Homo sapiens: one gene and its partner. The protein of the gene in region 2 purifies or fractionates together with the protein of the main gene of each other region. This does not show direct contact. Each region holds a gene or a part of one and is shown on either strand. Other genes may lie near its edges.

Region 1 (16,318 bases), on a different chromosome or scaffold from region 2:
CACAAGCTGAGAAACCCTCTGGGCCTCCTTCTGGGCAGGAAGTGGGGTCTGAAGCAACCTTGCCTTTTGGACTCCAGAATATTTCCCAGTGAATTCAGTTGAGCAACATAACCCTGACTCAACCAAATGAAATGGGAGTCCAATGTTTGTTCAAAAATACCTCTGTAGTGTTTTTAGTTTATGGCTTCTGGATAGCGTCTTTTCTGGCAATAATAATCTCCCTTTGTGTAAGTGCCACATTAGCAGACAACTGTTTATCCACAGTGAGACATTCACCTGGTTCTTATGAGAGTAGGAAGCTTTTTTATTCTGGCTGGTTGCAAAAATGGTGAAATCTCATTTAGCCAAGATATAATCTAACTGAAACCCTTAGGTAATGAGAAGATAGTCTTATGATAGAGTTTTTCTCTTTTTTTTTTTTTGCTTCTTTTGGTGTGTGTATATACATTCACGCACAAAAATAGCCAAAAGCCTACCATTTATTAGGCTTATAAAACAAAAACAATTCCCTTCACCCTCAGTGCCCCCAAAAATCTCTGTATTAGGGAAAAGCCTGACGGTAACATGACACCTAGAATTATAATTCTATCTAGTAACAACATTTTTTTTTTTAAAGGGCTAGGTGCAGTGGCTCACGTTTGTAATCTCAGCGCTTTGAAAAGCCAAGGCAGAGGATCACTTGACCCCAGGAGTTCAAGACCAGCCTGGGCAACATAGTAAGACCACCTTTCTACAAAATATATATATATTTTTTAATTAGCCAGGAGCAGTGGCACACACCTGTAGTCCTAACTACTTGGGAGGCTGAGGTGAGAGGACTGCTTCAGCCCAGGAGTTCAAGGTTACAGTGAGCTATGATCATGCCACTGCACTCCAAGCTAGGCAAAAGAGCAAGACCGTGTCGCTAAAAAAAAGACAACAACCAGAAAAAAAAAAAAAAAATCACGACTAAAACCCTGCAAGGCAGGGTGCGGTGGCTCACGCCTATAATCCCAGCACTTTGGGAGGCCAAGGCGGGCGGATCACTTGAGGTCAGGAGTTCAAGACCAGCCTGGCCAACATGACAAAACCCCCTCTCTACTAAAAATACAAAAAATTAGCTGGGCGTGGTGGCACCCACCTGTAATCTCAGTTACTCGGGAGGCTGAGGCAAGAGAATCGCTTGAACCCAGGAGGCAGAGGTTGCAGTGAGCCAAGATCGCCCCACTGCACTCCAGCTTGGGCAACAAAGGGAGACTCTGTCTCAAAAAAAAAAACATAATAAATAAAACTCTGCAAAAGCCTTCATCATTAAGAAAGAGCTAATATCTTTAACACATAAAAAAAGAGTTTCATCACGCCTATAATCCCAGCACTTTGGGAGGCCAACATGAGCAGATCACTTGAGCTCAGGAGTTTGAAACCAGCCTGGGCAACATGGTGAAACCCTGTCTCTACAAAAAATATAAAAAATTGGCTAGGCATGGAAGTGCGCACCTGCAGTCCTTGCTACATGGGAGGCTGAGGTGGGAGGATCACCTGAGTCCTGGGAGGTCAAGACTGCAGTGAGCCATGATGAAGCCGCTGCACTCCAGTCTGAGCAACAGAGTGAGACCCTGTCTCAAAAAAAAAAAAAAAAAGAAAAAGAAAAAGAAAAAGAAAAGAAAATAGACTGGTATATTTTAGATAAATTTTTCAACAATGGAGATGAAACTAAAAGAGTCTAGCTGAATCGTGACTAACCAGTTAATCAGAATTCCCTAGCTTCTCAGCATTCCAGCTAAGAAATGTGTTATTGTGCTTCGGCATAATTCTTTCCCCAAAATGACTGTACACACAGACCTTGACACATACGAACCAGTTTACCATGTCATAAGGCCCTTAACTTATCCAACCTACTAAGGGAATTCTAGACTGGAAGTGAACAGAAGTAACAGATCAAAAGTAGGAAGTGATTCAAAACACCCAGGAGCTACAATAGCTATAAAACTGCTCCTTCTCTTCCCCTAGATCATTTACCCAAATAAGAGAAGTATCAACAGAGCAAAAGAGAAAGGCCGTCTTTACAGTCTGTGAAGGGCTACTAAAGATTATGCTGGGGAGACACAAGGCTGAACTTTGCTTTCTCAGTGTAGAAATCTGCTATGTAACTATACTAAGGTCTTCATTTTGTATATTAGCATTTAATACAATTTTTATACAGACCTACACAATATCCTAGTGAAGGCAGCATACTTCTCTGGGTTAAAATCTTTGGCGGTCAGGACAATAGAAAAATGAGTCACCTGTTCAAAAGAAACAACAAAAAAATACACTTTTTAAATACACTTTAGCAGAATTTTTATTACTATATTCTAACAAACCTTTTGTATAAGACACAACAGTATTAAAAGAAAAAGACCAAAATTTAACAAGTCCTCACTTGCTTCTTTATACTTCTGCATGTGCATATGTATTACATATACATATATATTGAATTTCCTACATAAGAATGCAATATTTAGAGAAAAAATTTTCAGAAATCAAAAATACTTCACTCAAATATAAAAAAAGTACATTTCTACTTAATGTCCCCTAATCTCATCAAAGTACAAGAAAGAAGTGCTAAATCAGACTCACCAATTTAGCAACTGCTTATCTTTTCTCCTCCACACTTTTTTACTATTTTATTTTACCTATTTTTTTTTTTGAGTTGGGGTCTCACTATGTTGCCTAGGCTGGACTTGAACTCCTGGGCTCAAGAGATCCTCCAGCCTCAGCCTCTTAAGTAGCTGGGATTACAGGCACTACCACCAAACCCTTATTTTACTTATTTTTATTGATACATAATAGATGTATATATTTTTCCAGTTTTTTTTTTTTTTTTTTTTGGGACATTTGCTCTGTCGCCCAGGCTGGAGTGCAGTGGTGTAATCTCAGCTCACTGTAACCTCTGCCTCCCGGGTTCAAGCAATTCTCATGCCTCAGCCTCCCAAGCTCCCAAGTAGCTGGGATTATAGGCACACCACCATGCCCAGCTAATTTTTTGTATTTTCAGTAGAGACAGTGTTTCACTCTGTTGGCCAGGCTGGTCTCGAACTCCTGGCCTCAAATGATCCACCCACCTCAGCTCCCAAAGTGCTGGGATTACAGGCATCAGCCACCGCACCCAGACTATTTATCTTTTCTTTATGCTGAAAACATTCAAATTATTCTAACTATTTTGAAATTAATAGATTATTCTTAATCATAGTCACACTACAGCTCTGTCGAATAGCAATTGTTCTTCGTTATAAAAGGATGAAAAACAACAAAATACATCTCAGTAACAACCATACAGCTCCTGAACTAACTCTCTGCAGGGTGCCATAAGCTAAAAAGTACTATTATAAGAAGTTTTGGCTGGGCATGATGGCTCACATCTGTAATCCCAGCACTTTGGGAGGCCGAGGCAGGTGGATCACAAGGTCAGGAGTTCAAGACCAGCCTGGCCAAGATGGTGAAACCCTGTCTCAACTAAAACTACAAAAATTAGCCAGGAATGGTGGCAGGTGCCTATAATCCCAGCTACTCGGGAGGCTGAGGCAGGGAATTGCTTGAACCCAGGAGGCAGAGGTTGCAGTGAGCCGAGATTTTGTCCCTGCACTCCAGGCTGGGCGACAGAGTGAGACTTTGTCTCAAAAAAAGAAAAAAACCTTCATTTACTTATATGCCTCTATATTATAAATTTCTGATAAACATATACCTAATATTTCCACTAATGAGACAAAATTCAGAATTTCATAAATACAAAACTTTGAAGAGATACATTTAAAATGAAGAGTAGGTGGTGGTGCATGCCTGTAGTCCCAGCTACTTGGGAGGCTGAGGCACAAGAATCGCTTGATCCTGGGAGGCAGAGGTTGCAGTGAGCCGAGATCACACCACTGCACTCCAACCTGGGTGACAGAGCAAGACTCCATCTCAAAAAAAAAACAAAAACAAAAAGAACTTATTGAGCAATAAACCAAAGATTTCATTACATATTGAAACCTATCTTTTTGGCCAGGTGCGGTGGCTCGCGCCTGTTAATCCCAGAACTTTAGGAGAAAAGACAGGAGGATCGCTTGAACTCAGGAGTTCAAGACCAGCCTGGGCAACAGAGTGAGACCTCATCTCTACAAAAAATTTAAAAACTAGCTGGGCATGGTAGTGCACACATGTGCTCCCAGCTACTCAGGGAGCTGAGGAGGGAGGATCACTTGGGCCCAGGAGATTAAGGCTGCAGTAAGACATGATTGCACCATTGCACTCCAGCCTGGGTGACAAAATGAGACTCTGACTCAAAAAATAAAAATTAAAAATTGAAGTTAAAAAAAAAAAAAGAAAATTAGCTGGACGTGGTGGCGAATGCCTGTAATCCCAGCTACTCAGGACGCTGAGGCAGGAGAATCGCTTGAATCTGGGAGATGGAGGTTGCAGTGAGCCGAGATCATGCTACTGCAATCCAGCCCGGGCAACAAGAGCAAAACTCCCGTAAAAAAAAAAAAAAAGTATCTTCTTGCAAATTTATATTTTGTAACTATGAATCTGTTTTGTCTTAAACCTTCTACAGTTTCTAAATTGTTACCTTCCTGCTATTTTAAATGTAATTTTTAAAATTTAAGCTGGTATTCTAGTCATGCTTCACATAGTCGCACTATTGGCTATAAATTAGCCCTAAAACGGGAAAAAATCTCTGTTTGGGTACATGCCAGAGGCTCAGATAAAGTATTGTTCCAATATTCTATTCTTTGAAAAAACCTGCTGGTTGCTTGGGATTAGGAAAGTCCACGATTACATCCTAGTCTTCCACATGTCACACTGATACTGTTCATATCAAACAACACACCAAGAAAAGTCTACTTAATACACAAGCTGCCTTAAATATCCTTTCTAAATTCTTTTTTTTTTTTTTTTGAGACGGAGTTTCGCTCTTGTTGCCTAGGCTAGAGTGCAATGGCGCAATCACAGCTCACCACAACCTCTGCCTCCCGGGTTCAAGAGATTCTCCTGCCGCAGCCTCCCGAGTAGCTGGGATTACAGGCATGCGCCACCACGCCCGGCTAATTTTTTGTATTTTTAGTAGAGATGCGGTTTCTCCATGTTGGTCAGGCTGGTCTTGAACTCACAACCTCAGGTGATGCGCCTGCCTCAGCCTCCCAAAATGCTGGGATTACTGGCGTGAGCCAACACGCTCGGCCTGCCTTTCTAAATTCTTAATTTATCCTGGCCGGGTGCATCACCTGAGGTCAGGAATTCACGACCAGCCTGGCAAACATGGTAAAACCTGTCTCTACTAAAAATACAAAAAATTAGCCAGGCGTGATGGTGGGTGCCTGCAATCCCAGCTACTCGGGAGGCTGAAGCAGGTGAATCGCTTGAACCCGGGAGGCGGAGGTTGCAGTGAGCCGAGATTGCGCCATTGCACTCCAGCCTGACCAACAGAAAAACTCCATCTCAAAAAAACAAAAACAAAAAAAAAGGGGAAAAGACCACATATTGCTGTACTGCTCACCACTGTATCAACTACAGGGTCTGTCATATAATAGACAACAATAAATATTTATAGAATGAATGAGAGTGAAGTGTGAAACAGAGTATTCCCAATGAAAATAATATTTAATATTTTCTTTTCTTTTTTTTTTTTTTTTTGAGACGGAGTCTCGCTCTGTCGCCAGGCTGGAGTGCAGTGGCACAATCTTGGCTCACCGCAACCTCCGCCTCCCAGGTTCAAGCGATTCTCCTGCCTCAGCCTCCTGAGTAGCTGGGACTACAGGCGTGCGCCACCACGCCCAGCTAATTTTTGTGTTTTTAGTAGAGATGGGGTTTCACCTTGCTGGCCAGGATGGTCTGAATCTCTTGACCTTGTGATCTGCCGACCTCAGCCTCCCAAAGTGCTGGGATTACAGGCATGAGCCACCGCGCCCAGCCTATTTTGGGGTTTTTTTTTTACCTTCACGCAATCATACCTTTTTCAAAATGGAAGAATCTGGAACTTCAATTGTTGTGATATAAAACCATGTTCTTCTGTACTGACCAAAGACAAAGGGATGGAGAAGTTTGTTTTCATCTGTAAGGCAGCATTTTCTCAGCAGCAGGTTCCTTAATGTGGCTGTCGTGGAAGGATAACACCACACCCACAGAACTTCTCCATTTGTGTCCTTTTCTACGGTGGAAAGATGGTCACTGTGAGAATGTCAAACAGCAGCAAGGAAGTGAATTGATTGGTTACTCAGAAACACTTAGTGGAATCAGTTTTAACATCCCATCTTACAAAGCAACTCACAATACCTGACACCCCAAATTCCCACCTATCTCTACTGCTCAAATTATCTAGCTGTCATGATCCTGAATTACAGGCCACCTGAGTAAAAAGTTTTTATAACAAACCATGAATGAAAATTCAGCCTTAGAGATATGGTAGAGTTTTGGCCGGGCACGATGGCTCATGCTTGTAATCCCATCACTTTGGGAGGCCAAGGCGAGTGGATTACCTGAGGTCGGGACTTCGAGACCAGCCTGACCAACCTGGAGAAACCCCATCTCTACTAATAATACAAAAATTATCCGGGTGTGGTGGGGCATGCCTGTAATCCCAGCTACTCAGGAGGCTAAGGCAAGAGAATTGCTTGAACCCGGGAGGCAGAGGTTGCAGTCAGCCAAGATCACGCCACTGCACTCTAGCCTGGGCAACAGAGCAAAACTTGGTCTCAAAAAAAAAAAAAAAGACAAAGAAAGATGTTAGAGTTTCTCCCTATCTCCTCCCACACAAATGCTTATCAACTAAAATTACATTAAGTTTTTAACTAGTTGGAATAATTCTTTTTTTTTTTTTTGAGGCGGAGTCTCACCGTCACCCAGGCTAGAGTGTACTGGTGCTATCTTGGCTCCCAGGTTCAAACGATTCTTCTGCCTTGGCCTCCCAAGTAGCTGGGATTACAGGTGCCCACCACCATGCCCAGCTAATTTTTGTAGTTTTAGTAGAGACAGGGTTTCGCCATGTTAGCCAGGCTGGTCTTGAACTCCTGACCTCAGGTGATCTGCCCGCCTCGGCCTCCCAAAGTGCTGGGCGGAATAATTCTTTAAATGGAGTTTTGCTCTTATTGCCCAGGCTGGAGTGCAATGCAGTGATCTCAGCTCACCACAACCTCCATCTCCCAGATTCAAGCTATTCTCCTGCTTCAGCCTCCCGAGTGGCTGGGGTTACAGGCATGCACCACCACTCCTGGCTAATTTTGTATTTTTAGTAAAGATGGGGTTTTGGTTTCTCCACATTGGTCAGGCTGGTCTCGAACTCCCCACCTCAGATGATCTGCCTGCCTCGGCCCCCCAAAGTGCTGGGATTATAGGCGTGAGCCACCGTGCCCAGCCGAATAATTTTTAATAAATACATAGAAAAGGTTTGTCGAAAACAAAACCAGAGATGAAGAAAATAGTGAAATATTTCAAACCATGTTGCATACCAACTGTGTGAATTTTGTATTTAAAATTGTTTAGGCCAAGCATAATGGCTCATGCCTATAATCCTAACACTTTGGGAACCCAGGAGGATCGCCTGAGGCCAGAAGTTCCAGACCAACCTGGGCCACATAGTGAGACCGCATCTCTACAAAAAAAAAATTTTAATTAGCTGGACATGGTGGTGTGTGCCTATGGTCCCAGCTACTCAGGAAGCTAAGGTGGGAGGATCAAGTTAGCCCAAGATTCAGAGGTTGTCGTGAGCTATGCACCACTGCATTCCAGCCTAGTCAACAGAGAGAGACCCTGTCTCTAAAGACTACAAATAAAAAATTGTTATTGAAAACAGAATTACCATTCCACCCAGTAATCCCATTACTGGGTATCTGCCGAAAGGAAAAGAAATCATTATACTAAAAAAGACACTCACATTCTGTTTTTTTTTCTCTCTCTGAGACAGGGTCTAACTCTGTCACTTGGGCTGCAGTGCGGTGGCGCAATCTCAGCTCACTGCAACCTCCACCTCTGATCTCAGCTCACTGCAACTTCCACCTCCCGGGTTCAAGTGATTCTCCTGCCTCAGCCTCCTAAGTAGCTGAGATTACAGGTGTGCACCACCACGCCCAGTTAATTTTTTGCCTTTTTAGTGAAGACAGGGTCTCGCTATATTGGCCAGGCTGATCAACTCCCAGCCTCAATTGATCCACCTGCCTCAGCCTCCCAAAGTGCTAGGATTACAGGCATGAGCCACCACGCCTGGCCTCTTTTTTCAATTTCTTTTTTTGAGACGGGGTTGGGGGGGGTCTCACTCTGTCACCCATGCTGGAGTACAGTGGCATGATCTCAGTTCACTGCAACCTCTGCCTCCTGGGACCAAGCAATCCTCCCACCTACAGGCACACCACACCCGGCTAATTTTTGTATTTTTTGTAGAGACACGAGGGTTTTACCACATTGCCCAGGCTGGCTGCAAACCCCTTTTAAATGCACGTTAGTGTGAATAATTAAAAAACTGCTGAGTTCAAAATATGATCATATGTCATCTTTTTATTTGCTATTAGTAGATAAAGACAGTTTAACTTAGCCTTAGTTCAAAAGTACCTTCTGGAGAAACTAAGTTACTTAGGTTTTGTTTTGAAGCAGTTTGAAAATCACATTAGAAATAAATACAGTAATCCACCTGGACAACATGTCGGTATCCCATCTCCACAAAAAATACAAAAATTAATCGGGTGGTGGTGCACGCCTGAGGTCCCAGCTACTCGGAGGCCGAGGCGGGAGGATGGTTTGGGCCTGGGAGGTGGAGGCTGCAGAGAGCGATGATTGCGCTACTGCACTCCAGCCTGGATAAGAGGGAGACCCCGTCTAAAAAAAAAAAAAAGAAGAAAGACAAAGAAATAAAAACAGTAAGCGATTCCCACATAAACGCACTGCTTTGAGGCACTGAAAAATAATCAGCATATTTCTTCAGTTTTGCTAAAGCCTAAGCAATGTTATTGCGCACTTGGGGAATAGAAAGAGTTTAGGGGTGTGCAAAAATCTCGGGAAAATAAAACTTTTTCGAAGGGAACCAACGGGTTCCATCCCCTAAATACTGCACGAGGCTGCCCAAAGATCCCCGTGTGATATTTTTTAATTATGGAAGATAATTACATTCCTCAGAGCTAACCGAGATTCCACCACACAGGATTGTGTAGAAACTCCTGCTTTATTTATGCACAAGCTCGATCACATGATGCAGGAGCTCTCCACTGGTGGGGGTTGGGGGCTCTGGGATACACTGCGAGGGTCCCACTCCCGGCTCTGTACGGCCTATGGTGTGTCCGTGCACAATGACGGCCTGGGCCTCCATTTGCTCCTCCGTGAAGTGGGCGTCAGACGTTTCCCACGGCCCCTCGGTCCTTGGTGAGAGCTAAAAGGAGACAATGTGTGTACAACGCGCAGCACCCGGCCCAGCAGTCTCCAGCTGCCCGGTCCCACGATGGGGGCCGCCCGGGCGGGCAGTCACCCGTGGCTCCGAGGCAGCCGCCCGCCCCCGGCTCGGGGGAACCGGACCCTGCCTCCTCCCCGCCGCGCCGCGCCGCGCCGCCAGCCGGCTGCTCCCGCCCGGCCCGGCCCCGCCCGCGCAGCGCCCCTCGCAGCTGCCCAGCCTGGGAGCGCTCGACGTCCCGGCTCCGCCGGGCAACCCGGGGCGTGCAGGGGGAGCTCCACCCCGGAATCTTGGAGGTCCCCGGGCTCCCTCGGGCCGGGCAGGCCCCACAGGCGGCCGCGGGCGGGCGGGCGAGGGCGGCGGGCCGGGTCCCCTGCACCAAGGAGGCCGGGCTCCGCAGTCCCCAGTCCAGGCCCAACAGGGAGGGGGCCGCGCCCTCCTCATGCGGTCGGCGCCGGGGGCCGCGGGAGCCCGGGCTGCCCCGGGCCGAGGTGGAGCAGAGGCAGAACCAGGGTGCGGGCTTCCAGGCAGGGCGCCTACGTCCTCACCGATCAGCCCGACTCCAAGCATCAGCTGAGTGTCCGCCACCTCGGCCGCAGCCATCTTCCGCCGCCGCGGCGCGCAGCTCTGGCTGCCGCCTGCAGGACCGGCCTCGCACCCGAACCCCGCCCCGCCCGCCGTAGGGCCCGCCCCCATCACAGGCCCCGCCTCCCTCCCCGGCCCATCATAAGCCCCGCCTCCCTCCCCGGACCATCACAGGCCCCGCCTCCCGCTGTAGGACCCGCCTCCCTCCCGCCCCGCCCCATCACAGGACCATCAACCCCCCCCGTCGGCCCCGCCCCACCCGCAGGCCCACCTATTCCAGCCCCAGTCCTCCCTGCCAGGACCTGCTCAGTGCAGCTCCACTCGTCTTCTGCCCGTGGCCCTTCGCCCTTGGAAACCTCCTTGAGTCTCCGCAGCCTGCCTCAATTTCTCTAATCCAGCTGTTCATCCTTCTTCTTCTCAATCCACTCCAATCTTTCTTCCCGTCGTAGGCTTTCCTTGTTCTACCTCTGCCCTCTGGTCAAGCTCAAAAGAACAGGTCACCTTGTTCCTAAAAAGAGGCGTCCTGAGGATGGAGGAAGGGTCTCCATCCATTCCTTCATCCAGCCACCCCCAAAACAAAACAAAACAAAAATTGAGGGCCTAATAAGGCACTGGGGATACCTTATAGGGCTGAACAAGACAGAGCAGTCCACTGGGGAAGACAGACAATTGGCGAGTAGAATAAATAATCCAGGCCAGGTGAGGTGGCTCACGCCTCTGATCCCAACACGATGGGAGGCCAAGGCAGGAGCATCACTTGAGGTCAGGAGTTCGAGATCAGCCTTGGCAACATAGTGAGACCCATCTCTACAAAAAAAATTTAAAAATTAGCCAGGCATAGTGGCATGCACCTGTAGTCCCAGCTACTCTCAGGCTGAGGCAGGAAAATCATTTGAGCCCAGGATTTTGAGGCTGCAGTGAGCTGTGATCCTGCCACTCACTCCAGCCTGGGTGACAGAGTGAGACCCTGTCTCAAAAATAAATAAATAGATAAATAGATGACAGATAGATAGATAATAGTAAAAAAGCTCAGAATGATATGTGCCCTGGAGGCAACGATATGTGCCCTGGAGGCAGTGTGTTAGAGAGTGGAGGTGTGCTGCTCTAAAATGGGTGTCAAGAAAGGCTTCTCTGAGAAAGGGATATTTGAACTGAGATCTGAATGATAGTAACGACTCAGACATTGGAAGATTTGGCTCCAAGATTCCTCCTCTGGATCTACTGTCTGCCCCAACCCCAAGTCACACAGAGCTAATTAGGGAGGGTCCTTGGTGTCTGCAGGAATACAATCCCACCCTCATCTTTTTTTCTTTTTTCTTTTTTTTTTTTTTTTTTTGAGATGGAGTCTTGTTCAGTTGCCCGGCCTGGAGTGCAATAGCGCGATCTCGGCTCACTGCAACCTCCGCCTCTCGGTTTTAAGGGATTCTCCTGCCTCAGCCTCCTGCGTAGCTGGGATTACAGGCGTGAGCCACTGCGCCTGTTTTTTTCTTTTTTCTTTCTTTTTTTTTTGGAGACAGTTTCTCGCTATGTTGCCCAGGCTGCAATTTATACATTGGAGTATATTTAGGTGTGTATATGGCATTCCTGTTTCTCTCACTAAACTGAACCCCTGGAAGGCAGCACCCTGAACTACGTGCCCTTCTATTCTCTGGGCTTCCTGTTGTAGTATAACTGTTAATGTGTCTAGTTTTCACAGAAAAGAAGCAGGTGTTTAGAGGCTGAGGAGTGGGACACAGATGTGGAATCAGTTTGGAAGCCAACTAGAAACTTGCACTAGGTGGGGCACGGTGGCTCACGCCTGTAATCCTAGCACTTTGGGAGGCTGAGGTGGGTGGATCACGAGGTCAGGAGATTGAGACCAACCCGGCTAAAACGGTGAAACCCTGTCTCTACTAAAAATACAAAAAATTAGCCGGGCGTGGTGGCAGGTGCCTGTAGTCCCAGCTACTTGTGAGGCTGAGGCAGGAGAATGGCGTGAACCCGGGAGGCGGAGCTTGCAGTGAGCCGAGATCACGCCACTGCACTCCAGCCTGGGCGACAGAGCGAGACTCCATCTCAAAAACAAACAAACAAAAAATCACAAAAATTAGCTAGGCATGGTGGCAGGTGCCTGTAATCCCAGCTACTCAGGAAGCTGAGGCAGACTGGCTTGAACCCAAGAGAGGACGGTTGCAGTGAGCCAAGATCGCGCCACTGCATTCCAGCCTGGGCGACAGAGTGAGACTCCATCTCAGAAAAAAAAAGAAAAGAAATGAGGATGAAGACGATGATGAACAGATAATTAAACAAAGGAGAGGGAGATGATAGTGGGTGCAGGGAGGGGAAAGATAATGAGGGGTGTGTCCAGGCTCCAGTGAGTGGGATGATACCTGGAATTGACACCTCCTTCCCTCCTGTTTCTCCACAAGTGCTGTCTTACCTGCCAGACAGGTACACCAGAGTGAAGGGAAAAGGAATAGAGGGTGGAGAGAGCAGAGGCGACGCATCCCCAATCTTTAAAAGTAAGACTGACCTCTGCGCTGTCACAGACAGATGGAGCTGGGGTGTGGAAACAGACAACCTGAGTTCCAACCCCCTTGCCCATCTTAGCTGCGAAACCTCACACATGTTTCCTATCTTTTCTGTGCATGTTTTCTCAGTGATCAAATGGAGCTAACCATACTTTCCTCCGTGACTCTCCCAATAAAGATTTGAATCAGGGAAAATCTTTATGCTAGTTTTATTGATAAGAATAGCCTAATTTTATAGGTAAGAATATAAAGGGTCCCCAAGACCACCCCCCAAATTCAATGATTTGTTGGAAGGATTCTCAGGATTCAGCATATAGCTATACTCATGGCTATGATATACATTTTTATTTTTTTGAGACAGGGTCTCACTCTGTCACCCAGGCTGGAGTGCAGTGGCACGATCACGGCTCACTGCAGCTTTGATCCAGGCTCAAGCTATCCTCCCACCTCATCCTCCTGAGTAGCTGGGACTACAGGCAGGCACCACCATGCCTAGCTATTTTTTTTTTTTTTTTTTTGAGATGTGATCTCACCATATTGTGTAGGCTGATCTCAAGCTTCTGACCTCAAGCGATCTGCCCACCTCAGGCTCCAAAGTGCTGGGGTTACACATGTGAACCACCATCCCCAGCTCAGGGCTATGATTTATTACAGCCAGAGAATACAAAGCAAAATCAGCAAAGGGAAAAGGCACATGGGGTGATGTCTGGAGGAAACCAGGGCCAAGTTCCCAAGAGTTATTTCCTGGTAGAGTCACACAGGACACACCTAATTCCTCCAGCAACAAGTTGTGGCAATACTTGTGATATTTATCAACCAGGGAAGCTTGTTAGAACTCAGTCACCAAGTAACTCAGTTTTTACTGGGGGCCAGTCACATAGGTACCCTCTGCCTAGCTCATACCAGATTTCCAGACTCTCATGAACCACATTGTATGTACAAATAGTTCAGGCATAGTCTGTCACTCTGATCAGTTTGATCAGTTCTAGAAATGCTGGGAACACTGCCGAAGTCCAAGTTTCCAGGCACAGCCAAGGGCCAAACTGGCCAGCAGACTTTCTATGGATATCACCCTCAGGCCTGTCGTGTGAATTCTTTTTTGCACAGCCTGCTCACTCCTTGCTCTGCAGAAAAAGAGTAAGTTACTGGCACTGAAGCAGATTTGGAAAGTGCCTAAACTGTCTGGCCACATGGACAAGTGCACAAGGGACCCCAGCATCTTCCAGGTGTTCCAATCCCAGGTTCCTATGAGTCAAATATGGTTCTTTTTCATCTTTGTTTCTGTAATTGGATTCCATCATAGATTGGGCATGTGTCAGCCAAGGGAGCCATTAGGGTGGCAGTTTTTTTTTGTTGTTGTTGTTTTGTTTGTTTGTTTGTTTTGATGGAGTCTTGCTCTGTCGCAATGCAGTGATGCAATCTCAGCTCACTGCAACTTCCGCCTCCTGGGTTCAAGCAATTCTCCTGTCTCAGCCTCCTGAGTAGCTGGGACTACAGGCGCAGGCCACCACACCCGGCTAATTTTTGTATTTTTAGTAGAGACAGGGTTTCACCATATTGGTCAGACTGGTCTCGAACTCCTGACCTCAGGTGATCCACCCACCTCAGCCTCCCAAAGTGCTGGGATTACAGGTGTGAGCTACTGTGCCCAGCCTTTTTTTTTTTCTGAGACGGAGTCTTGCTCTGTCACCCAGGCTGGAGTGCAGTGGTGTGATCTCCACTAACTGCAACCTCCGCCTCCCAGGCTCAAGCAATTCTCCTGCCTCAGCCTCCCAAGTAGCTGGGACTACAGGTGTGTGCCACCAAGCCTGGTTAATTTTTTTTTATTTTTAGTAGAGATGGGGTTTCACCATGTTGGCCAGGCTAGTCTGAAACTCTTGGCCTCAAGTGATCCATCCGCCTTGGCCTCCCAAAGTGCTGGGATTACAGGTGTGATCCACCACGCCTGGCCAAGCTCTTTTAATTTAAGGGATTCAGTCTCACTTGGGAACTGGAAGGCGATTCAGTCAACTGCTCTGACACTCCGTCCTGACTTCTAGCATATGTGAGGCTTCCAGAACATTCCCAAGATGAAGTCATCCTCCTTGTGTTCTCAATGGTTTCAGGATGCTGGGTAGCTCTCCGGCCCTAAGAAGCCCAGGTTTCGAGCTGTGTTGCATTATTCTTTTTTCTTTCTTTCTTTCTATTTATTTATTCATTTATCTATTGAGACAGGGTCTTGCTCTGTCACCCAAGCTGGGGTGCAGTCGTTCAATCACAGCTTGCTGCAGACTTGACCTTCCAGGCTCAAGCAATTCTCCCACCTCAGCCTCCCGAGTAGCTGGGACCATAGGTTTGTGCCACCATGCCCAGCAATTTTTTAAAACTTTTTGTAGAGATGGGGTCTCCTTATGTTGCCCAGTATGGCCTTGAACTCCTAGGCTCAGGCAATCCTCCTGCATCAGCCTCCAGAGTAGCTGGGACTATAGGCATGAGCCACGATGCCCGGCTAATTTTTATTTTTATTTTTATTTTATTTTTGTAGAGATGGGAGTCTCACTATGTTGCCCAGGCTGGTTTTGAACTCCTGGCCTTAAGACATCCTCCCACCTCAGCCTCCCAAAGTGCTGGGCTTACAGGTGTGAGCCATCACACCTGGCTACTATGTTGCATTAAAAGAAATAGTTCATGGACTGGGCACCGAGGCTCATTCCTGTAGTCCCAGCATTTTGGGAAGCTGAGGCAAAAGCATCGAGCCCAGGAGTTCAAGAGCAGCCTGGGCAACATAGCAAGACCCTGTCTCTAGAACAAAAATTTAAAAATTAGGTGGGCTTGGAGATACACACCTGAACCTATCTACTCAGGAGGCTGAGGTGGGAGGATCACTTGAGTCCAAGAGTCACTGGTTGCCATGAGCTACAATTGAGCCACTGCACTCCAGCCTGTGTGACAGAGCAAAACCCAGTCTCTAAAAAAACCAGTCTCTAAAAAAAAGAATAATACATAGTTCAGCAAGAAAAATGTAATTAAAATAATTCTGATCTTTCTTTGCGTTTTCCAAAAAACATTAAAGAGGACAGAATTTATTACCTACAGTGAAATGTCTTAAAATCCCTTTCCCCTCAGATTTTTAAAAATAAAACTTTTAGGCTAGGGGTGGTGGCTCATGCCTGTAATTCCAGCACTTTGGGAGGCCAAGGCAGGCAGGTCACCTGAGGTCAGGAGTTCGAGACCAGCCTGGCCAACATGGTAAAACCCCATCTCTACTAAAAATACAAAAATTAGCTAGGTGTGGTGGCAGGTGCCTATAATCCCAGCGACTTGGGAAGCTGAGACAGGAGAATCCCTTGAACCCAGGAGGCAGAAGTTGCAATGAGCCGAGATCACACCATTGCACTCCAGCCTCGGCAACAAGAGTGAAACTCTACCTCAAAAAAAATAATAATAATAATAGGCCTAGGCCAGGCACGGTGGCTCACACCTGTAATCCCAGCACTTTGGGAGGCTGAGGCGGGTGGATTGCCTGAGCTCAGGAGTTCAAGACCAGCCTGGGCAACACGGTGAAACCCCGTCTCTACTAAAATACAAAAAATTAGCCGGGCATGGCAGCGTACACCTATAATCCCAGCTACTTGAGAGGCTGAGTCAGTAGAATCGCTTGAACCTGGGAAGTGGAGGTTGCAGTAAGCCGAGATTGTGCCACTACACTCCAGCCTGGGTGACAGAGCGAGATTCTATCTCCAAAATATATATATATAAATAATAAATAAAAAAATAAAATAAACATTTCAAATAGCTTTAGATTTTCAGAAAAGTTGCAAAGATAGTATTGAGAGTTACCATATACTGCACCTGATTTTCTCTATCATTAACATCT
Region 2 (16,318 bases):
TAGCTGGGCATGGTGGCATGTGCCTGTAATCCCAGCTACTTGGGAGGCTGAGGCAGGAGAATCGCTTGAACCCCAGAGGCGGAGGTTGCAGTGAGCCGAGATTGCTCCATGGCACTCCAGCCTGGGCAACAGAGTGAGATTCTGTCTCAATTAAAAAAGAAAAAAAAAAAAAAAAAAAAAAAAGGAGGCCAAGAATGAAAACTGAGAATCTGATTCTATCCCTTTCCTATTAGTGAATGAAGAACTAGGGGAAAGACTAACTTATTTTCTAACTACATTTACTATGTATTCCACAGAGTCAACGATATAAAATGACATACCAAAAGTACCAAATAGGTGCCCAATAATGTTATCTCTTAGATCATCTTTCCCTGATCTTGTCTAGTACGGAGAAATGAAGAAACACACATTAGGTTGTTTTTTATTTTATTTTATTTTTTTAAGAGATAGGCTCTTGCTCTGTCACCCAGACTGGAGTGCAGTGGTGTGATCATAGCTCACTGCAGCCTCCAACTCCTGGACTCAAGCAATCCTCCCCCACACACTAGGCCTTCTCAACAGCTGTGGATCTCATTTCCTTATCTAGAAAATGGAGTTGGATCAGATATGATCCCTAGGTTTCCTTCCATTTCTTATACTAGCGGCTGCAAACCGAGATGCCTGCAGAGGCCAGCAGATGACTGCACTGAGACCATCACCCTAGGTAGGGACCATGATGAACTGGAGTGCACCAGCCTTCTATAAAGGACATACATAGCTGCTTTTGAGTAGCAGTTGATTGCTCTCACTGTGCAAGGCCAAACATGTCTACGGATGTTTTTGATGTACAGGTCATCAGTTTGTGACTTCTGCCAACAGTTCCTTAAGCATTTTTTAAGACTTAAAATGGTTTTGGATTAAACATATAAAACACTCATTGCATAAAGGCAGTGAGTATCACATGATCTTAGGCAAAAGGATCACGTAGGTGCTCACCACCTAACTTAAAATAACAAACTTTAAAGATTCTTAGTCCTTCAGAGGTAAACATTATTCTAAATTAACATTCCCTCTTTAAAGTTTTTACCATGTTTGTATCCTTAAACCTATCATTAATTTAGCAATTTTCTTAATTTTACATACATGCAATTATGCAAATGTATTCTGTTGCTTCCCTCCCTTCCTGCCGATCTTATTTCTGAGGCTCAACCATGTTGTTGCTTGTCACTGTAATTCATTTTCACCAGCAGTGTTTCGTTATATGAATACACCAAGATATAGTTTTCCATTCAACAGTTTGGGACATTTGGCTTGTTTGCAACATTTTGCTACTACAAACAGCTGCAATGAACCCTTTGGTACAAGCCAGGTTTTTCCAAGAGCGGTGTGTTTGAAAGCGTGAGTAGCGACCCATTACTGAGTCATGAGAACAATTTAGTGGGTCAGCCAGCACTGTTTTTAAGTGAAGTAACCTAGGTTAGATATCAGATGCATTTCATATTGTATAGTGTCATTTCACGAAATGTTTGAATGTTGTCAACATGTATACACTCTTTGTGTGTCCATGTAAAGTGGTCCTGCAATGTATACTTCCACCAGCAGCATCTGGTCTGCTCTACATCTGCACCAACACTCAATATTAGGCTTCTAATTTGGTTTCAGTCTGGTTGGAGTAAGACAGATTATCATTTTGGTTTTAATTTACATTTCCTTGGTTACTTGAGGCAGAGAAACTTTTCCTGTTGGTGTAGGTGGATTATTTTTTTAAAAGGATAATTTGTTCTTCCATTGTAGAAACTTGACTCTTGACATGAACCCAACTTTAACTCAAAAAGACTGCCCTTAAACTGCCTGCATTAGCTGAGAAGTGATTACTGATATCTTGCGCTATATAATGAACAGAACTCATGTCAGGTTGAGTACAATTCACAATAGCACCGAAAAGCATGGAATGACCCCTGGATGAGACAACCTTAGGCAACATGGGATATATCCCTAAACTTTGGGATGTATTCCAACACTTTTGATAATCTTCTAATTATTATTACTATACTTTTTTTTTTTTTTTTTTGAGGTGGAGTATCGCTCTGTCTCCCAGGCTGGAATGCAGCAGCATGATCTTGGCTCACTGCAACGTCCACCTACTGGGTTCAAGCAACAAGTAGCTGGGATTATACCTGCCCGCCACCATGCCCGGCTAATTTTTGTATTTTTAGTAGAGATGGGGTTTCACCATCTTGGCCAGGCTGGTCTTGAACTCCTGACCTCATAATCCACCCACCTCAGCCTCCCAAAGTGCTTGGATTAAAGGCGTGAGCCACTGCATCCAGTCTATTATTTTTTGAGACAGTCTTGCTCTGTTGCCCAGGCCAGAGTGCAGTGGTGTGATCCCAGCTCACTGCAACCTCCACCTCCCGGGTTCAAGTGATTCTCGTGCCTTACCCTCCCGAGTAGCTGGGATTATAGGCGCCCACCACCACGAGGCTAATTTTTGTATTTTTAGTAGAGATGGGGGTTTCACCATGTTGGCCAGGCTGGTCTCAAACTCCTGGCCTCAAGCAATCCACCCGCCTCAGACTCCCAAAGCGTTGGGATTACAGGCGTGAGCCACTGCACCCAGCCCTGAGAATCTCCTAATTATTGAACACTACTATAGCATACTGATTTCTCTAACAAGATGGTCTGTTCTTTTCAAATGGCTCTATGAAAAAAAAAAATTTAAAAATGTAAAAAGATAATCCATGCAACAATTACATAAAAAAGTAAAGCTGTATTGGGGAATGGATGCTAGGAATTCAATTAGGTCCATTTATTGGCCTGCATGTGCCAGCCTGTCAATGCCTATGATTCAAATTTGTGCCTCAGGAGAATCTGAAATTATCACAGGTCTTACTTAATGTTTTGGAGTTGTGTGCAAATAATCAAGACCATACATGTGAAATCTTTGAATGCCAAGTGTCTTCTGTACTTTCTTTTATTAACATCATAGTCTTTGCATCAAGATACATAGCAATGATAGCAGGTTTCTTTTTAAAGCTTAGTATTAAATATTAAATATCTTTCCCCATTTAAATTTTACATTACTCTGCCAAGAAAAAAAAAAAATTAAAACTCAAGTTACTTGAAGCCTGGACACACTTCCATGATTAGCCGGGCTAGGTAAAAGTTGGTGGCTTTATTCTTCCTGCTCTATAAGCAGATCCAGGCCCTAGAAAGATGGGACCAGGGTATATAATTGTTTTTGAAAAGTGTGCTACAAAAATGGATGGCCTGTTATAAGCCAGGATACAAAGTTAAGGATGGGGGTAAGGGAGGGACATTTTCTTCCAGAAGAAAAGACAGAATTTCTGAAGAGTCCCAGTCCATAATTTTCCCAAAATGGTTGGAGGAGAGGGTAAAATCTCAACATGAGTTTCAAAGTACTGTCTCTGTGAGGGGCCGGTAGATGCCTTGCTGAGGAGGGGATGGCTAAGTTTGACCATGCCCCATCCCCAGCTAGGAGAATGGAAATGGAAAGTTTATTGCCCAGTGGGTGTGAAAGTGGGCTGAAGCTTGGTTGGTACTGAATTCTCTAAGAGGTTTCTTCTAGAAACAGACAACTCAGACTCTTCCTCTCACTTCAGCAAAGAAGTTATTTTTAAAAGCACTTGGGAAGTTCCTCCTCCACCCCGCAGGTGGGAAGGCTCAGAGAAGGGTGTCATCAGTACAGCCGCCTTCTAGGCCGTAACGGAATTCCTGAAGGTTGGAGACTCCATAGAAGTGGACAAAGGCTGCTGCCACCACCAGGACATGGAAAATCTGATGAGACTGGAACTGTAGGAATAAAAAGAAAAGAGCCTTTAGGATAATGCAAGGAGGAATAAGAAACAAGTAGGAGAAAGCATTTGCTTCTTCTAGTTTATCCTTAATTAAACAAATTTGTTAATAACATTAAAGTGGTATATTTAGAAAGTTTTAAAAACACAGTCCTTGTCAGAGATACACCAAAATGTTAATATTGATGATTTACCTTCAATGCACATATATGTACCTCCAAACACTATATGATCCCAGTCTCATACCACCTTTTCCTCAGCCCTTTAACTTTGGGCTGTTCACTCACCATCACAGGACCTGCTGGAAGATTCATTTCTTACCCATATGTCAAATTTTCCAGGAAAGAAGCGCTCAGGAATTCGAGCAGCATAAAGGCCAGCTCCAGTGATGTACATCACAGCCATGAGGAAGAACCAGCCCATCTGGCCCACTGTGGTGGCCTTGACAAAGCCCTCAGCGATAGTAAAGTGCATGGTGGGCACGACGCCACTCAAGCCAAGTCCCAGGAACACGCCTGAACAGAACAGACATAAGACTGTCAAACAAGGAAACAGCCACCGCATGGAAGGCACTGCTGTCTTACTCTGGAATTTCAATGTTTATGATAATTAGCTATTTTTGGATGAATAGTACATGTTTAGGAAACTTAGCTACAAGATGGATAACACTCAACAGATATTTCTTCTATGTCCTGAATGGGAAGAAGCTGTGTAAGTGCTTACTACCTTTTAAGCACCAAGAACAAAGATCTCATATTCTTCATTATCTGTTAAGGAATTTAGGTAAAAATGGTATGTCAAGACTCTCTGATGGCTAACTTGGGTACAGAACTTAGATGTCAAGGCTTCAGTTGCCTCCCAAGTCAGAGAAGCATAGGATAGGCTTCCTGTTAAGATCATAAAAGTCTTACATAACCAGAACTCTGACCTCCTGAGTAGACAGATATACCCAGATTAGCAGTTATCCTGTAGCTGCTGGGACACACAAGTAAGGCAAGAGCAAGGGAAGAATGGGTATGTGTCTCATCATTACACTACACATAACTGAAGGGCAGGGACCACCTCTCCATCTTTGTAAATACCTTTGTTTAAGCACAGTGCATGGCACGTGGCTGGTGCTTGATAAATATTTAATTATTATTATTTTTTTCTTTTCTTTCTTTCTTTCTTTTTTTTTTTTGAGATAGAGTCTTGCTTTGTTGCCCAGGCTGGAGTGCAGTGGCGTGATCTTGGCTCACTACAACCTCTGCCCCCGACCAGGTTCAAGTGATTCTCCCGCCTCAGCCTCTCAAGTAGCTGGAATTACAGGCACCTGCCACAACGCCGACTAATTTTTATATTTTAAATAAAAACAGGGTTTTACCATGTCGGCCAGGCTGGTCTCAAACTCCTGACTTCAAGTGATCCGCCTGCCTCGGCCCCCCAAAGTGCTGGGATTACAGGCGTGAGCCACTGCTCCCGGACAATATTTAATTATTTTAACTGAAGGTTAAAACATAGCAGATATTAATTGTAAAGGGACTAAAGACTAGTGGTAATTGGTGGTGTTGCTGCAAGTAATAAAAGCTTAAAATAAGAGTCCAGATGAGATGAGACAACACAAAGATGTTTATGCTTGTAGCTATTACTTTGTTACCTGTTTATGCTCAAGGTATTTTCATTCACCAAACCAGGTATTCCATTCCCTTAGTAAAATGCCTCTGAGTGTTTTAATTTTAATCCCTTGGTCTGAGCTTGGGACTCGGGTCACTAAAATTACTGTGCTTGCTACATTTTTAAACTGTCACAAACCAAGTATAAGAGTAGCTACATCTGTGCTTGCAGTTAATTGACCAGCTGGGTAATGATCTGTCCTATTGGCATTCTACTGAAATAGTATGACACTGGGGGTTGAGAACTGAGCTTTGAAATTGATGCTGTTTTGAAAGTTCTGAAACACAAATCAGGGTTTGGGTGGGGTTCTCAAGCTGCAAACCTTAAGGCTCAAATAGGTTTGAGCCTATCAGGCCTAAGGTCTAAATACCTCTGAGGTGTACGTACATCTTCCGACCTACCTGCTCTTGTCTGCCGGTGCTTAGGAGTGGCAAACCGGTCCCACTGCGCCACAATGATGGCAGAAATGCCCAGGACACAGACGATGGAGAGGTAGATGAGCCGTGGCTGTGGGGAGCAGTAGAAGGAATAATAGAGCCAGGGGACAAAGCTCCCCATAATTAGAAGAGCAATCCCTGAATAGTCCAGTCTAAAAAGAACCACAAAAATGAAACAAATCAGTGGGGGAAATGAATTTGTATGGCTCATTTAACTAGCTCTTTCTGTTCTCCACCTGCTCCCAGATTTAACCATTCCCTCAATCTATCCTGTATTGTAGACTCCCATACAATCTATCCTGTATTCTGGATTAAAATTCCACAAGGTCACTTCTATTTTACGATGGAAAAATCTCTAAGAATCCCCATTCAAAGAACTCTATCCCTTTCCCTTACTAGTGAACAGCCGTATCTCCCATAGTAGACACTTGAATTTAGAAATTCCATCACAATCCAGCTGGTTCCCAGCATCACACTCAGGAAAGGCTTTGAAAATTCTCCTATTCTGATAGAATGAGTTCTAAAAACAAAATTCTTAAATTGGGAGTAGTATTAAGGGATACTCTAGCTTTTTCTATCTTAGTTGACTTTTTAAATGAGGAAAATGTACCTTCTTACTGGTGTTGTTAGAAAAAACAAAATAATACACCACTGTCGCCACCAAAACCAACAATAACAACAAAAACAAGCAAACAAATAGAACCTCAGGCTCACGGCTGGGCAAGAGAGAAAGCACACGATGATGGACATCTGGAGCTTCCAGCAATGCATGGGCAGCAAAGATAAGCTTTACTTGACTGCTGGGTAGGAGCACCAGCAGAATGAAGCATAGACTATTTACCACACCCTACTTTGGCTTGGGCTAATAGTAAGTTACGCTTGTACAAGGTCTTGGAAAGCAGCCAGTGCACTGGCACTCTAAGCCTCACAAAAGATAGTGCTTTTCAGGTAGAAAATATATTCCACAATTGGTCTCTCCATCTGTTGAAGAGGATGCAGTAAGTCTGTTCATGAAGTGTTTAAGAGAAAAGCTTCATCACCCCACTATCGCCACAGAACAGAGAGCCTTTCCTCTGGCATATCAAGAAACCTTTAGGAGTGATATGAGCTCCTATCACCCAGTAAGCACTGGGATCTCAAGATGTGACAACAGTGCACAGTATTTTCCTATGGTGTTCTTTTAACTCACTTGGAAAAAGTCCGAGAGACTTTCTCTGAATGACAATAGACGGTGTGAAAGAGCCAGGAGAAGCTGAGGCAGAGCACTGCACCCAAAAAGAACATCCCAAAAACCACCTTCTCCTGTAGAGGGGCCATGAAGTACATATTTGGTCTGAGCATGGTCAAGATTCCCAAAAAGAGAAACAGCACGAAACCTGCAGGAGGGTAAAATAAAAAAAACCTGTAAGAAAAAAGGGAATGTGTACACTTTGATGGTTGATGTTTTTGAATCAGAGAGCTACAGGCAACATCACTAATCATCAGGGAAATACAAATTAAAAGCACAATGAAATACCACCTTACTTCTGCAAGAAAGGCCATTATTAAAAAGTCAAAAAACAACAGATGTTGGCATGGATATGGTAAAAGGGGAATGCTTATACACTCCTTGTGGGAATGTAAATTATAAACTAGTATAACCTCTATGGAAAAGGGTATAGAGATTCCTTAAAGAACTAAAAGTAGAGCTACTATTTGATCCACCAATCCCACTACCAGGTGTCTACCCAAAGGAAAAGCAGTCATATGAAAAAGACACATGCACATGTATGTTTATTGTAGCACAATTCACAACTCTAAAGATATGGAACCAACCTAAGTGTCCATTGACCAATGAGTGAATAAAGGAAATGTGGTGTATGTACACCATGGAATACTACTCAGCCATAAAAAGGAATGCAATAATGTCTTTTGCAGCAACCTGGATGAAGCTGAAGGCCACTATTCTAAGTGAAGTAACTTAGGAATGAAAAATCAAATACTGTATATGTTCTCACTTATAAGTGGGAGCTAAGCTATGAGTACGCAAAGGCATATAGAATGATATAATGGACTATGGAGACTTAGAAGCGGGAGGGGGAGATAGGGGTGTGAGACAGAAAAACTACATATTGAGTACAATGTACACTACTAAGGTGATGGGTGCATTAAAATCTCAGAATTCACCAGTATATAATTCATCCATGTAACCAAACCCCCCCCCACCCCTTTGTAACCCAAGAGCTATTGAAATAAAAAAAAAATCAGAAAGCTATGAGGTTTAGCTGTGTAATTGCAGTCCAATGTTTCAAAGAAAGTGGCACTGGTCACAGAAACCCAGACAAAAAAGACCATTTTTTGAAATGTTGGCATTTTACTTTTACAGTTGGAAATTACGAAGTACAAGGAATTGTCTCCACCTAGAACAGTTCTGCCAGGGATCACAAAAAAATATCTAGTCCCAATTTCTTTGGTTTCTAGGCCTTTTACTCTCAGTCTTAAAGATCAGTGATCAAGGGTCAACCAAGGTTATTAGCTTAAAGTCATTAGTAGTTTAAAGGTAGAATCCCAGCTGCCAATCGATCTGAACAACTTTGTTGGGCTCTATAATCCCTTCGCAGTTAGGGAGACAACAAATTCCACCTTTCCCCATCCAAATCACTCACCAAGCAGATGGGTCCAGATGTTGCCAGTTTCTGTATGAATGCGGAAGATGCTCTTGAAGCAAGCCCGAAAGGAGGGCATGGGAGGTCTATGACCATGTAGCAGATAGTCGTTGTCCTTTAGCCAGTCAGGGAGCACATCATATGGGATGACCCTCCAACGTCCCTCCCAGACCTAGAACATATACACTTTCTCTGGGTAGGGCACTAGATAGTACCTTCCCCAAGGACAAGCAGTGATGGAGAACTAGTCTAAGAAGATGTCAGTCAGGCTCTGAATGGTCCTAGGTAATAGTGGAGAACCAGCCTGGACTGGGGGATATCCAAGACATAGCATGAATGGGGCTAGCAGAGTCCTGACTCATATTTTGACCATTAAAAAAAAAAAAAAAATCCTGGCTGAGTGTAGCGGCTCATGCCTGTAATCTTAGCACTTTGGGAGGCTGAGGCAGGTGGATCACCTGAGGTCAGGAGTTCAAGACCTGCCTGACTAACATGGTGAAACCCTGTCTCTACTAAAAACACAAAAAATTGGCCGGGCATGGTGGCGGGCACCTGTAATCCCAGCTACTCAGGAGGCTGAGGCAGGAGAATGGTTTGAACCTGGCGGGCGGGGGTTGCAGTGAGCCGAGATTGCACCACTGCACTCCAGCCTGGGCGACCGAGCAAGACTCTGTATTCAAAAAAAACAAAAAAACAAAAACAAACAAACAAAAAATCTCTTTGTCTTTGTTTCATGTTAGTTTATCTGGAGAAGTTTTAGGTAAGTGTTTCTCAACCTTTTAAGAAAATATGGTCCAACCAGGCTGGGCGCAGTGGTTCACGCCTGTAATCCCAGCACTTTGGGAGGCTGAGGCGGGCGGATCACCTGAGGTTGGGAGTTCGAGACTAGCCTGACCAACATGGAGAAACCCCGTCTCTACTAAAAATACAAAAATAAGCCAGGCGTGGTGGCACATGCCTGTAATCCCAGCTACTCGGGAGGCTGAGGCAGGAGAAGTGCTTGAACCTGGCAGGCAGAGGTTGCAGTGAGCTGAGATCGTGCCACTGCAGCTGGGAGACAAGAGCAAAACTCTGTCTCAAAAAAATATATATATATATATGGTACAACCTCCTTTAGGCTACTTGAAATTTCAAAATTGATATACTGAATAAAAACAAAAAAATTATAAACGTTGTTTTAAAAAACGTACAGATCCCTCCTTTGCCCCTCTCCAGGAGATTCTATCTCATGTCTCATCCCTCCCCCAATTAGATTCTAAGTTCTTACCACATCTTTTTAGAGTAGGGGTTCTTAATCTAGGATCCATGCACTATGGACAGGATCCAGGGAATAGATGGAAAAAATTGTATTTCCATTTACCTCTAAGTAAATTGAGCATTTTCCTCAATTATAAGCATAAGCAACAAACCACAGTATTAGTAGAACTTGTGGCTTTGTCACCAATAGAAATCAGATACTCTCACACATTAGTTCTGCAGGTATCTCAAAATACTGTTTCTATTCATCATTACTTAGAAATTACAAATTTTAATAAAATACATTAGTGCTCATCATTCATGTATATTTAATGTGTTAACAAAGGCATTCATATTACTGTCATATTGAAATATTTTGATGACTTCCAAAGGCGCCCCTTGCATAGAAAAGAATCCGTTTTAAGAATATATTTTGAACAATGCCTCACAGAGTAGGCAGTAAAAATTTAGCCAGTCTTCACATTGATTTACCTCATCTTAACCAAAAAACAAATCCACTCCTTCCCAGGAATAAAAGCTCTTCGACCCAGTGCAAGCTTGCTGGCTGGGGACATCCCAGACAGGCCTGCTGCCCTTCCCCTTCCAGGACAGAAGCTCATAGGCCATACCTTGTACACAAACTCTTCCATCTTCTCCATGGCGTGGTGGGCTTGCAGGGGAAGTGTCAGTACCCGCACCTCCTCCTCTTCTTCCTGGGGCACTGGGCATGTTTGCTCTTCTTCAGCCTATGGGGGAAAAAACCCACAACAATCCAGGGAGTCATCTCATAAATTGTACTATTCCAGAGCAGAGAGACCCAGAAAAACCCAAACCTAATGCCTTCTGCCCAGCCTCTTTCCTACAGAGGGTCTTGTGGTCTCTTCTCCAAAAGCATACACACTGAGTTTACAACACTAGTTAGAAATTTATTAATACTTCGTAAATGCTGGAGTGAACATTCTATGCAGTGCGTAAAAGAAGGACTGTCACAGAGACTAGCATTGGGGGAATACACCAGCTCTAGGTACTGAATGACATCCTTTTCTTTAGGATAGTGGTTCTTAACTTTCCTCAGTTTCCCAAAGAGTTCTCTTTTCTAAGCCATTACATTTTCTTTCTTTCTTTTTTTTTTTTTGAAATGGAATATCCCTCTGTCACCCAGGCTGGAGTACAGTGGTGCGATCTCTGTTCACTGCAACCTCCGCCTCCCGGGTTCAAGCAATTCTCATGCCTCGGCCTCCAAGTAGCTGGGATTACAGGCGCCCACCACCATGCCTGACTAATTTTTGTATTTTTAGTAGAGATGGGGTTTCACCATGTTGGCCAGGCTGTTCTCAATCTCCTGACCTCACGTGATCCTCCTGCCTCGGCCTCCCAAAGTGCTGGGATTACAGGCTGAGCCACCATGCCCAGCCTACGTTTTCAAAACAACGAAAAAGACACAGAGTCTCAGAGAGTTCCATAACAATAATTCTGTTCAGAGTTCCCTGTTCACTGACTCTAGGGATGCTGTCATGATTGAAACTTTGTATCTACAGCAGCTCCCAGGAGTACCAGGGCCTCAGAACTGGTTCCATGGAAAACAGCGGTACTGACTCCAGGGCCTAAAAAAGCGCACCCAGAGGGCCGGGCGCGGTGGCTCACGCCTGTAATCCCAGCACTTTGGGAGGCCGAGGCGGGCGGATCACGAGGTCAGGAGATCGAGACCATCCTGGCTAACACGGTGAAACCCTGTCTCTACTAAAAATACAAAAAATTAGCCGGGCGAGGTGGCGGGCACCTGTAGTCCCAGCTACTCGGGAGGCTGAGGCAGGAGAATGGCATGAACCCTGGAGGGCGGAGCCTGCAGTGAGCCGAGAACGTGCCACTGCACTCCAGCCAGGGCGACAGCGAGACTCTGTCTCCAAAAAAAAAAAAAAAAAACACACCCAGGAGAGCACTTGCCTGTGAAAGGGAGAGAACTTTCTCTCTCTCTATCCCAAGGCTCCGAATCATGGCTATAGAAAGCCTGGCAGTTCAACTCCTTTTCTGGGCTATTTCTCTCCTGTTGCTGATGGTCACTAGTAAACACATGGTCCATCTTAGATTTTGTGCTACAGCTTCCAGCCAGTCTACCCTAACATCCATTCTCTCTCTTCCTAAGTAACAAAGCCCACGGTTTTGTTCAGGGTGGCAATGTTACTGCAATTTTACTCAGGCTGCACTTTCTAACCTCCACTGCAGCTGAATATAGTTATGTAAGTAAGTTCTGGCCGAAGTCTTATGAGGTACTTCCTGATAGTCCCTTTATTTATTTTTGTTTTTTCTGAGAGGGGGTTTCACTCGTTGCCCAGGCTGGAGTGCAATGGCACGATCTCGGCTCACTGCAACCTCTGCCTCCCAGATTCAAGCGATTCTCCTGCCTCAGCCTCCCGAGTAGCTGGGATTACAGGCGACTGCCACCACACCCAGCTAATTTTTGTGTTTTTAGTAGAGAGGGGGCTTCACTATGTTGGCCAGGCTGGTCTCGAACTCCTGATCTCAGGTGATCCACCTGCCTCGGCCTCTCAAAGTGTTGGGATTACAGGTGTGAGCCACCGTGCCCGGCCCTGATAGTCCCTTTAAAAGGCAAAGAGTTGGCCGGGCACAGTGGCTCATACCTGTAATTCCAACACTTTGGGAGGCTGAGGCAGGAGGATCACTTGAGCCTAGGAGTTTAAGATCAGCCTAGGCAACATGGCGAGATCTTATCTCAATAAAAATAAAAGGGAAAGAGAGGGCCTTTCTTCTCGTTTCCCTTTCATGGGGGGTAGAATGTGGGTATGATGGGCACATATTAAGAGTGATGGGAGAGCAACACAGGTGCCTGACAGTGGTGGATCCTCCATATCAGCCCTGGATTGGTTACTTCTGAAATTCTTTTGCTTGAGAGACTTCTGTCCTGTCAAAACTGTAAGGATTTTTGTGTGTTATATGAAGTCAAACCTAATCCTAATTGACTGCTTCCTTCATTCATTCAGATATTTACTGATTATTTATTGGACTGCAGGCCTTGTGCTAAGCACTGGTGTTACAAAGATGAGTGCATTCCCAAAAGCTTACAATGGGGAAAGCAGACAACAAGATGTTTATAACAGTATCATAGGGACTTGGATAGAGACATTTCCAGGATGCAATGTTCCTCCTTTTGGACGGTGAGCTCTTAAAAAAGAGAAAATGACAGAGTTCTAAGGAGAGAAACTGAACAAGGGGATGACTCCTGGGAAGATGACTTACTTTGGGTGGGTTGGCGATTACCCGTTTGCCCTTCTCTTCTAGCAGGGGTCCCAGTTCAGCCAGTTCCACCGTGTCAGCTTCCCTGTTACTGGCAGGAGCCCCATTCCCCTGTGCCACCACAGATCCTTTGTGGGAAGACATCTGGCTGGTACCTCAATACCCTGCAGCTTCAGCTTGGGGAAAGGTTGGGGTCTCTCAGCCCCAGGGGGCAGAGATCTCCCTCTGATGGTAGACACTAAAAGAAAATACAAACATGAAGGATTGACAATTTATTCCTCTTACAGTTTCATTTCTATACTCTAATACTGAATAAGAAGCTAATCAACTCATATCCTGTCCCCAATTCTAAAGGCCAGTTAATTGCTTAAATGAAATCTATTCCTGTCCTCCCTCTTTAATGTCAACCTTTACCCAGAACCTCACTAATCTTATAGGTAAGGCTGAAAATGTAACACCTAGTTGCTTGCTTTCATATGATCTATGGTTACTGCACCAAACTGTCACCATAGAAAAACAGCTACCCACCCTCAACTCCCTCCCACAGGTATGGAACCATTTAGTGAGAAGAATCTCATCTATCACTCCCAAAGCTCACTCTGCCCAAGAAAGGCCTAGCTCTGAGACCGAGGAATAAAAATATAAAGCCAACATCTGGCTGCAATTACTACAAGATCATCCAGGCTTAGAAATGAATTAAATGCCAACTGAACTCAGTTAGACCTTATCTACAAATGCTCTGATAAATGTGTCATACATACAAAAGGAACTTGGTTGTGGGACAGATGCCTAGTGGTTAATTTCTCTGCGAAGTCTACTAATTCTATTACAGGATTATAGCCTGAGTTCAACCCTGGGATAACAAGCTTTCATCACAATCTGTCCTGCAAGCAAGCAAGAACTTACCTGGAAGCAGGAAGGTGAAGACAAGGAGGCAGCCCCAATTTACCCTTTGCCACACACATACCTAATAACCAGCTCCACAATAACTTGTTTCAACCACCACAACCCATAATCTAAGCCCTACTCAAATGAGTATTTCAGAAACTAGAGACAGGCACACACAAAATCAGAAAAACCCAGAATTCCATTTTCTAGGAAAAATCTCAGACACTTTAGGTTTTCCTGGGTTGGATTTTCACAGTAGTCTTTAAACAGGCCTCAGGGAAATGCAAATAAAAAAAGAGGGAAAGAGGGAGAAAGTTTCCAAAGATTTCCACTATGCTGTAAATTATTAGTTCTCTCCCCACCTCTACCCCCATACAAAGGACTTTATTAGTTATAGCAATAGCAGTAGCCAGAATATTAGCATTTTCTTGCATTGGTTACCCAAGCCCCACCCAAACCCAAATAACCACATTGCAATGCAGGGAGGGCCAGGTAACAACTGCACATGGAGTGGGTTGCATTCCGGGAGAGGAAACTTAAGCTTAGGGAGCCCCAATCTTTTATATTGGGCAGTAAACATAACTTTGCTCCTGAGGGAGACACTATATCATCCATGGCTATTCACTATATACAAATATCTTTGATATCTTGTGTCAGTTCTTTTTTATCTAAGAGTAATCACAATTCCTTCTCAGGGATTATAAATCTCTTTCTCTGACTCCCTAACTCTCTCTGTCTCTCCCCCTCCTTCCCTCCTGGAGCTGGGACACCCTTCTTTTCCTGCCCTTGGACATCAGAAACTCCAGGTTCTCCTGCCTTGGGATTCCGGGACGTGCACCAATAGCCCCTTGGGTTCTCAGGCCTTCAGCCTTAAACTGAACCAGTTATGGACTTTCCTCATTGTCTAGCTTGAGATGGCATAGTGTGGGACTTAGCCTCCATAATCTCATGAGCCAATTCCCCGAATAAATCCCATCTCTATCCATATGTATGTATCCTATTGGTGCTTTCTGGAGAACACTTACTAACACATCAGGTAAGGGCAATCCTCAAGCTTCTAAACAGTCATGAGTCATGCTATGCTCAACCCACAAGCACAGTTGAAAGCAACCGGCAATCTAGTCCAAGAGAGACAAAAACAATAACTTGCTATACAGCAGACCTTTATATGGTGTCAACACATAGACAGTTCCTCTTCCTTTAAATGTGCAAGACTCTGACGAGATGCCAGCACACAGTCATAGTGAACAATTGAGCTAAGGAGAACAGGAAGCTGGAAGCCTATGAAAACCTCGAGGATGGGCAACCCGTGTGAGAGGGACACAAGGAAATCTTTCTCAATAGGCTGACCTCAAAACATATTTCCTCAAAGTGAAGTACTACTGAATCAGCAGCTTTACTAAAAAATACTTTATATCGCAAGCAAAAAAAAAAAAACCAAAAAACAACTTTATATCACAAGCAAAAAACATAAATATTTTTGGGCATCTTAGATAAATCTGAAAAGAGGGGCACACTTAGCTTGTTACTTACTAAGTTACTGTTGGAAGTAACTTAGATCAGGCTACCAGGGCAGAAACAAAACAAAACAAAACAAAATTCTGGTTCTGAGATGCAATACATGGATCATAAAATAATAAATATACTTTATTTTAGTTAGAACCCATTTCAAAATGAATGAATGAATGGGGCAGATTCCAGCTTGCCAGCATATGACTTAGCTTCTAGCCACTTAGATAAGGGCTTATGTGCATTTTCTTGTGCTTGTGGTGGCTTCTCTTATCCCTTTCCCCAGAGTAAGTCAACACATTCATTGAATATTTAGCAAGTGTATTTAGGACTAGCACCCTAAGGCATTCTAAGACACTGTGCAAAATACAAGACACTGTGCAAAATACAAGTTGAACAAGTTATAGTATTGTTTTCAAAGAGCCAGATAACATAGGTAGTTTGTGATATGCACAAAAATAAGTGATACAATTTGATTGCTCCAGGAGGGCAGTGGAGGGAGAGAACCCCTCAACTAGAATGGTCACACACTAAATTTAGTAACTTTGAGTGCTATGTAACTATTTTACTAGAGGCAATGAGAATAATATAGAGAAAATTTAAGTTGGGCAATTAGGGTCCAAAGATCATGTGCAGAATCCAGATTGGCATTCTTACTAATTTCATCATTTGATCTGAAAAGTTTTTATGCCCTCAAGTCTTCTGGCTATCATCAAAGTCTTTTCCTTTTTCAGTCCAAATCATTTACTATTAGTTCTTCCGATTCCCTCTAGCTCCTCTATCACTAGCTCCTATACCACCTCTCTACATCTTCTAGACCCAGAGTCACCAAAACCTGAGACCCCAGTTAACTCACAAACCAGCCATCAGCTACAACTCATCATACAAAATATATCATCATGCA

Evidence for each region.
Region 1: the proteins of ADIPOR1 (region 2) and DENND10 purify together in Homo sapiens (affinity purification with mass spectrometry; 2 studies listed by BioGRID and IntAct, with this or other methods). This does not show direct contact.

Annotation. Positions count from the first base shown.
Region 1 is NC_000010.11:119,097,795-119,114,112, reverse strand, and holds the start of DENND10 (DENN domain-containing protein 10), read right to left. Parts: upstream 10,001-16,318; 5' UTR 9,971-10,000; coding exon 9,916-9,970; intron 9,349-9,915; exon of another isoform or gene 9,091-9,348; intron 8,803-9,090; exon of another isoform or gene 8,629-8,802; coding exon of another isoform or gene 8,618-8,628; intron 6,166-8,617; coding exon of another isoform or gene 6,146-6,165; coding exon 5,949-6,145; intron 2,265-5,948; coding exon 2,185-2,264; intron 1-2,184. UniProt on the Homo sapiens protein: Guanine nucleotide exchange factor (GEF) regulating homeostasis of late endocytic pathway, including endosomal positioning, maturation and secretion, possibly through activating Rab proteins such as RAB27A and RAB27B.
Region 2 is NC_000001.11:202,937,910-202,954,227, forward strand, and holds the end of ADIPOR1 (adiponectin receptor protein 1), read right to left. Parts: intron 13,256-16,318; 5' UTR 13,162-13,255; coding exon 13,021-13,161; intron 10,512-13,020; coding exon 10,395-10,511; intron 8,702-10,394; coding exon 8,530-8,701; intron 7,287-8,529; exon of another isoform or gene 7,261-7,286; coding exon 7,074-7,260; intron 6,037-7,073; coding exon 5,849-6,036; intron 4,310-5,848; coding exon 4,116-4,309; intron 3,793-4,115; coding exon 3,664-3,792; 3' UTR 2,923-3,663; downstream 1-2,922. UniProt on the Homo sapiens protein: Receptor for ADIPOQ, an essential hormone secreted by adipocytes that regulates glucose and lipid metabolism. Required for normal glucose and fat homeostasis and for maintaining a normal body weight.